2 linked regions of the Homo sapiens genome follow. The protein of the gene in region 2 interacts with the protein of the main gene of each other region in a pairwise test. Each region holds a gene or a part of one and is shown on either strand. Other genes may lie near its edges. The genes, in order: DNAAF11 and SSX7.

Region 1 (3,922 bases), on a different chromosome or scaffold from region 2:
GAAAGACATGAGTGTCAGAGTTAGGGAGAGAGGTAAAGTTGGCACACTGATGTCTTTGGAGATGGAGGAAGAGGCCATGAGCCTAAAAATGCAGGTATCCTCTAGAAGCTGAAAGGGGCAAAGTAAGGGATTCTCTCCTAGAGCCTGAAGAAAGAATAACCCTGCCAACACCTTCATTTTAGCCCAGTGAAACCATTTCAGGCTTTTGATCTCCAGAATCATAAGGTGATACATTTGCATTGTTTTAAGTCACTAAGTTTGTCTCAATTTGTTACAGCAGCAATAAGAAACATAAAAAAGGAAAAAAAAATACACACAAAGATTTAGTCAAATATAAATTAAAAAATTATTAGAATCAGCTGAATTATAAGTCAAAATTATGTAGAGATTTGGAAAAAAGATAATGCCACATATGCTCTGGTCATAAGGACTCATATGGTTGCTATAGATGGGCTGCAGATTTGGTTCTGAGCTTCTTGGCAGCCAAAGCGAAATAGAAAAACATAACTAGTTACACAATTTTCATGGTCTTTAAGGAAAAAATAAAGTTTGTAGCTTTCCTCTAACATGCAGCTCTAAAACACATTTCTAGCACAGAGTTTCATAATGGAGATATTGAGAGATGTCAAGCATTGTTTCTGTAGAAATATGGCCATACAGTCACAGGTTTCATAAGGCTGTTTCTTGTAGTATCCTTCAATAAAGGTATCTTCATACCATTACTTATGAGACCATAATGATAAATTCAATGCAATAAAACCTATTATTTAAGGCATTAAGTAATTGTGGTCCACATACTTAATTTGATCTAATTTAATACAGGATTGGGATCAAATCAATTTGGAAATTTTTGGATAAATGAAATTTACTTATTTTGTAAGTATATATAAGTAAATACACTGATATAAATATATGAATCAACATAAAAGTAAATATATTTATATATAACTAATACTATATAAATAAAGCACTTTCATAAATTTCTGTTAAGTCATCCAGTTTGTGGCACTTTGTTATATTAATTTATATAGTATAATTTATATATAAATATATATTAACATAAATACATTATATATAACTGTATATTATAACAAGCTAGAAAACTCTAGATAATTTCTTTCAACTAGGATTTCTTCCCAACAGAACCCTGGGGAGCAAGGTGATCTTTTCTTCCTTGTAATTGAAGTACATTAATTGATTGATTGATTGATTGATTTCTGTCTTATAAATGATGTAAGTCTATTTTGATTTAATTAGAACTACATTCCTAAAAGGCTATGACAACTGAACCCTCTGTCACTTTACTGACAGGAGGCAAAAGACCTCATATTAATAACTGATGACAAATTTGGGACTGTACCCCAGCACCTATTCTAGGAACCTCACTTTTTTAGTGATTTCTGTTAGTCTTTGAAATTGGCCCACATTTCCTTCAATCCAAAATCATGTCTGAGTTTAGAAGGCCTAAGAATCAGAGATCCAGTTTTAAGCTGAGCGTTTCTTGATCTTTCTTCACCCAGGATTCCTGCAGCACAAAGGTGGAGTGTCCACACTTATTGATAATAACTGTGCAAGTGCTGAAGCAGAGAGAGGGACACTAAGATGTACTGAAGGCCTCACAGAACTCCCTTGAAGTAGGAATTATGATCCTACTATACATGAGTAAAATGAGGCACACAATTCACAGGCAGTGGAAGCAGGGGTCAGACCTTGGTTTGTCTGCTAACAAATCTGTTTCCCACTATACTGCAGGGCCCACCTACTTCTGGAGTGGCTCAGACACTGGGAAGAAAAACCTTGAAAAGGGCTGACTCTCCTCACACCTCTTCTATGTGACTATCTAAAATAACTACTCTGTTGTTTTGGGTTGAATTGACAAAAAAAGATGTTGAAGTCCTAATCCCCAGTAGCTCAAATCATGGACTTTTGGGAAATAGGGTTATTATAGATGTCCCCTGACAAAAAAAGATGTTGAAGTCCTAACCCCCAGTAGCTCAAATCAGGGACTTTCTGGAAACAGGGTCACTATGGATATAATTCACTGAGACTAAATTATCCTGGAGCAGGTGGGCCCCAAGCCAATATGACTGGTGTCTTTATAAAGAGTCTTGTGAAGAGGAAGGCAGAGACCCTCAGGGTAATGTGTCTACAAGCTCAAGAATGCCAAAGATTGGCCAGCAAATCAGCAGAAGCTAGGAGGGAGGGCATGAAGCAGATTCTCCCTCGCAGCCCCTGGAAGGAACCAGTCCCGTCAACATCTTGAACTTGAACGTCTGGCCTTCAGAACTACAAGATGATACATTTCTGTTGTCTAAGCCATCTAGTTTGCAGTACTTTGTTACAGCAGCCCTAGGAAAATAATACATTTATTAACACAATTCCTTTTAAGCAGCTCACAAGCTTTCAATGAAATGGTAATTAAGACTCTAAAGCATATCAACCTATTTTTACATAGTAGTAAACATATGAATACCATTTTTCAAAAAGGGGCTGTTTTCTATTGAAGCAGTTAATTTGGAGAAGTCTTTCTGAAAGGAAAGACTTGATCCAAAGCCTATAATTTAACCCGGAGAGAAGCAGTGAATGTGGGTATAGTGTGAATGGTGGAGGCATCAAGGTCCGACTCACATAGGTTCAGATCCCACCTGTGTCACTTGCCAGATATGTCAGCCTAAACAAGCAGTGTTCATTCCCTGAGCCCTGACTTCCTCATCTCTGAATGTACCTAATTGTCTCCCTGAATGGGTCTGGGAGGATCAAAAACACTGTGCCCAAAGTACCTGGCACAACCTCTGACCCTGTCTGCAGCAGCCATATGATGGCTCTCACACCTCTAGCCTGACCAGGCTCAGCTGCAGCACTGACACAGGCTCAGCTGCGGTGGCCATGAGGACTCCTGGACCCTTAGCCCTTCCAAGGGAACGGCTCACAGCATTACACTACAAGATCTAGTCCTATGATAGTCTGGGTCTCATCAGTTCATTTTCTAGGAAATCACTGTATAATAATGATCAGTTTAGGTTATGTATGAGACAATTTATCATTTATTCTATATTCAATTACTTGAATCACTCATTCTCTTAATCTGAGAAATTTTACATTAGAAGAAATGTGTTCCATTAATCCAGCAGTCAGCAGTCTCTTGACTGCAGAGAACACAGAAGTCTAAGAAACAAACGTCCTTTGAGAACTGAAAAAATGCCTATTGAACAGGCGATGTATCCATGCATTCTCTTTCCAGGAACATGGAGCCACATGCAGGCTGGGAACTCTTAGAATTACATGAAACGTAACATTGCTATCTTAATATTCTCTGTTGTATGATTTCTCAAGAAATAATATTTTTTCCTCAGTTCTAAAATTACTCGATTGGGGGGATATGGTATAAGAGTAACATACGCAGTAGTGGTTGTCAAATGAGGTTCCTGCACCAGCAGCAGAATTACCAGATTTTGTTAGAAATGTGAAATCTCAGGCCCCATGTCAGACCTGACCCAGAAACCCTGGGGGAGGAGCACAGCAGTCTGTGTTTTGAAAAGGCCTCCACGTGCTCTGATGCACACCAAAGACTGTGAACCTGCCGGGCACGGTGGCTCATGCCTGTAATCCCAGCACTTTGGGAGGCCGAGGCAGGTGGATCACCTGAGGTCAGGAGTTCAAGACCAGCCTGGCCAACATGGTGAAACCACATCTCTACTAAAAATACAAAAGTAGGCAGACATGGTGGCACATGCCTGTAATCCCAGCTACTTGGGAAGCTGAGGCAGGACAATCACTTGAACCTGGTAGGCAGAGTTTGCAGTGAGCCGAGATCGTGCCACTGCACTCCAGCCTGGGTGACAGAGTGAGACTCCATCTCAAAAAAAAAAAAAACAAGTAATAATGAATTCTTATCAGTAATGATGAATGTTCTTCGTAACTA
Region 2 (3,922 bases):
TAGAAATTAATAATTCTTTTCCTCCCAGGCACAGTGGCTCACGCCTGTAATCCCAACATTTTCGGAGGCCGAGGTGGGTGCATCACCTGAGGTCAGGAGTTCAAGACCAGCGTGGCCAACATGGTGAAACCTAGTCTCTACTAAAAATATGAAAATTAGCTGGGCATAGTGGCACATGCCTGTAATCCCAGCTACTCAGGAGGCCGAGGCAAGGAGATTCGCTAGAACTCAGCAGGCAGAGGTTGCAGTGAGCCAAGATCGCACCATTGCATACTGGGCAACCAGAGTGAACCTCTGACTCTAAATACATACATACATACACACATACACACAATAATTCTCTTCCTCTTACAGCAGTTACAGCATCAGAAGGTAGCTTCATGGGTTCATTTCTCAAGAGAATACCTATTGTTTTCTGTATTTTCAGCAAGGTTTTCTTCTTCTAAAACCTCAAGGGCTGCGATGGCCACTCGGCAGCCTAGTGGATTGCCACCGTATGTGGACCCATGGTCGCCTGGCTTAATGCTCAGCATTATGTCATCGTCCCACAGCACTGCAGACATAGAGTATCAGCCCCCAGAAAAGGCCTTTCCGAGGAGGACTATATCAGGTCTGACATTTTCATGATCAACAGCCAGCCATCTACCAGTTCTGGCCAATCCTATCTGTATTTCAGCAGCAATGAACAGAACCAAGCTGGGAGCACGAGATGGGATGAGGGTAAGTTAATATACCACAAAGCTTACTGTTTTTACAGAGTTTCAGCTGGTTCGTTCGTTCCTTCCTTCCTTCCTTCCTTCCTTCCTTCCTTCCTTCCTTCCTTCCTTCCTTTCTTTTCTTTCTTCTTTCTTTCAAGTATGGATGTATTTATTTATTTGACAGTCTTGCTCTGTCGCCCAAGCTGGAGTGCAGTGGTGTGATCTCAGCTCAATGCAACGTCCGCTTCCCAGGTTCAAATCATTGAGCGAGCCCAGAAAGTCAAAAGCAGCCGGGGAAAAATAGCAAAAGGCAGGGCGGTGCATGCCTGTAGTCCCAAGGCTGAAGCAGGAGGATCGCTTGAGCCCAGGAGGTAGGGACCAGCCAGGACAACATAGCAAAACTGTCTCTGCTAGAAAAATTAAAAATATTAGTGGTGGTGGGGTGGTGTGAGCCTGTAGTCACCAGGCTGAGGCGGGAGGATTGTTTGAGCCCGGGAGGTAGAGGCCAGCCTGGCCAACATAGCGAAACCCCATTTCTACTAACAACAAGAACAACAAAAAAATTGCGTGGGTGGGATGGCTCACTCCTGTAGTTCCGAGGCCAAGGTGGGAGGACTGCTTGAGCCCAGGAGGTCAATACCAGCCTGGCCAACGTAGCGAAAGCCTGTCTTTCCTATAAGTAAATAAATAAATAAATAAATAAATAAATAAATAAATAAATAAAATAAAATAAAATAAAATAAAATAAAAATGAGCAGGGCAGAATGGCAGTAGTCCTGAGGCCGTGGTGGAAGGATCCCTTGAGCCCAGGAGGTTGAGGCCAGCCTGGCCAACATAGCGAAACCGTCTCTTTTAAAAAATCCAAAAACAAAAAATATTAGTGGGGGTGGGGTGGTTCCCACCTGTAGTCGCGAGACCGAGGCGGGAAGATTGGCCAAGGCGGATGTAACCAATACCACAATCACATCCCATAAGTAAATACATTTTCCTCTCTCCAGGGCTACAGGTAAAGGATGGTAATTGTGCACACCACACTTAGATTCCCTTTCAAAAATGTAATCAGAGGTTGGAGGGCCTTGGACTGTTTTTTCAGTAGCAACAGATATAGAAGCCACTGAAGAATGAAAGCCACTACTAAGTACAGCAAAGCTCTGCAAATGTGCTAGTCTGGAAAACATTGTGTCTTTCAAGTAGAAAAATCACAGATCCGACTATTTTTTTCTTCTCGCTGTTCAGACTAGAAAACAGATTTTTAACCCAAGATCCAGGGACGGTCTTCAGAGAGTTCAAAATCTCCTGACGGCGCCTGAGGACCACCCACTTTGTCGCAGTGGCAACAAAGTGTTGCTGGAGGAGGAGACAATATTGTGCAATGTCACTATGCAGGGATGATGGACCAATCAGGGCAGTTAGTGAACTCCATCTGGCCAATCAGAAGTCAGAACAGTAGCGTGATAAGCGAAGCTGATGTGGCTTCTATCAGTCCAGGCTCCAGGGACAGAACCTTCTCAAAGTGGGGGTGGAGACTCTGATTTTCCCGCCTAAAGCATCCCCTGGGATTGGCTACTTTAAGTTCAGAGTATGCATGCTCTGACTTTCTCTCTCGATTCTTCCATACTCAGAGTACGCACGGTCTGATTTTCTCTTTTGATTCTTCCAAAATCAGAGTAAGCATGCGCTGATTTTCTTTTTCCATTCTTACTACCCCTCCCCTCCTCTGTGGTGCATTTGTTATCTAGTTTTAATAAGGAGTGTATGTGAGGCAGGTCGCCATCTCAAATCCTTCCTGTCAGTTTCTAACTTTTTCAGGTATGGGATTTTTCCTGGGAACTCTAGTAACTTAACAAATTTGGGCCGGGTACGGTGGCTCACGCTTGTAATTCCAGCAGTTTTGGAGGCCACAGCTGGTGGATCACTTGAACCCAGGAGGCGGAGGTTGCAGTGAGCCATGATCACACCACTGCATCCCAGCCTGGGCAGCAGAGAGAGACCATGACTCAAAAAAAAAAAAAAAAAAAAACTCACTCAAATCTTTCCTCCTGGGATCAAGTGATCCTCTCGCGTAGGCCTTGGGACTAGAGGTGCACACCACTCCGCTTCTGTTAATGTGTGTGTGTGTGTGTGTGTTTTGTTGTTGTTGTTGTTTTAGTAGAGATGGTTTCGGTATGTTGGCCAGGCTGGTCTCAAGCTCATGGGCTCAAGCGATCCGCCCTCCTTGGCCTCCCAAAGTGCTGGGATTACAGGCGTGAGCCACTGCGCCTGGCTGATTGCTGCACCTTGAAACTCCCTACATTCTCTCTAAGTGATGGCGGGCTCTTGTAGTCTCAGAAATTCTAGCTCTCTTCTTCTAATAATTTACAAATCACCCAGTAATAGCCTCTAAATCCGTTCATATTAGCCATGCTCATTTCTCTTCAACAGAACAGAACCCCCTATCCCTCTGCCTGATCAGATCCATCACCAGAGAGACGATGTTATCTCTGGGACTCATTTCCCTTCCATTATTTATTGAGTCGGGGTGTCAGCATGCCCCCACTGAATAAAATTACACAGTCACATCTCTGCCTTCCCAACAAGGGTCTGTACATCTTTCAGAGTAAGGCTAGCCCCAGGGAAACTACTAACAACATTAGCCAACCCCCTCCCAAAGACTCAAGGCTGCTTTGCCCACAGGAAGCCTGTCATCCCAAATCAATACTTCTCCCAGAGACCCCTGGTTCCCTATTTTCATCTGACTTCGCCCCATGTCATTACTCAGGGACAGATAAGCCCCAGATGGAGAAATGAAGCACCTGATTCCAGGTGACTGAGGGTGGCCGGCCTTCACTGATTTCTCCCTCCACAAGACCAAAGCTGCTGTGGCTGGAAAGACTCAGGCTATTTCTCTTGCAGGTCAGACTGCTCCTGGTGCCATGAACGGAGACGACGCCTTTGCAAGGAGACCTAGGGCTGGTGCTCAAATACCAGAGAAGATCCAAAAGGTGAGGTGACCTGGAGGGAGCAGAGTAGTGGCCCAGGGGACAGTGTGGGGTGGCCAAGTTTCTGAGGAGGGGAGGACAGAGATACTGGAGACAAGGACCAGGGTCTTGGGGGAGATCTGGATCCTTGAGAGCCTCCCATCCTCGCTCTGTCATCAACTAGCATCCTTGGAGACAAGTCTGTGACCGTGCACTACATTTGGTGAATCTCAGTCCATTCTGGAAAGTGGGAAGAGAGTCAGTCAG

Evidence for each region.
Region 1: the proteins of SSX7 (region 2) and DNAAF11 interact in binary tests that used the Homo sapiens proteins (3 or more experiments, as listed by UniProt).

The regions. Positions count from the first base shown.
Region 1 is NC_000008.11:132,633,746-132,637,667, forward strand, and holds part of DNAAF11 (dynein axonemal assembly factor 11), read right to left. Parts: intron 1-3,922. UniProt on the Homo sapiens protein: Involved in dynein arm assembly, is important for expression and transporting outer dynein arm (ODA) proteins from the cytoplasm to the cilia. Acts as a crucial component in the formation and motility of spermatozoal flagella.
Region 2 is NC_000023.11:52,653,161-52,657,082, reverse strand, and holds the start of SSX7 (protein SSX7), read left to right. Parts: upstream 1-2,182; 5' UTR 2,183-2,321; intron 2,322-3,590; 5' UTR 3,591-3,610; coding exon 3,611-3,679; intron 3,680-3,922.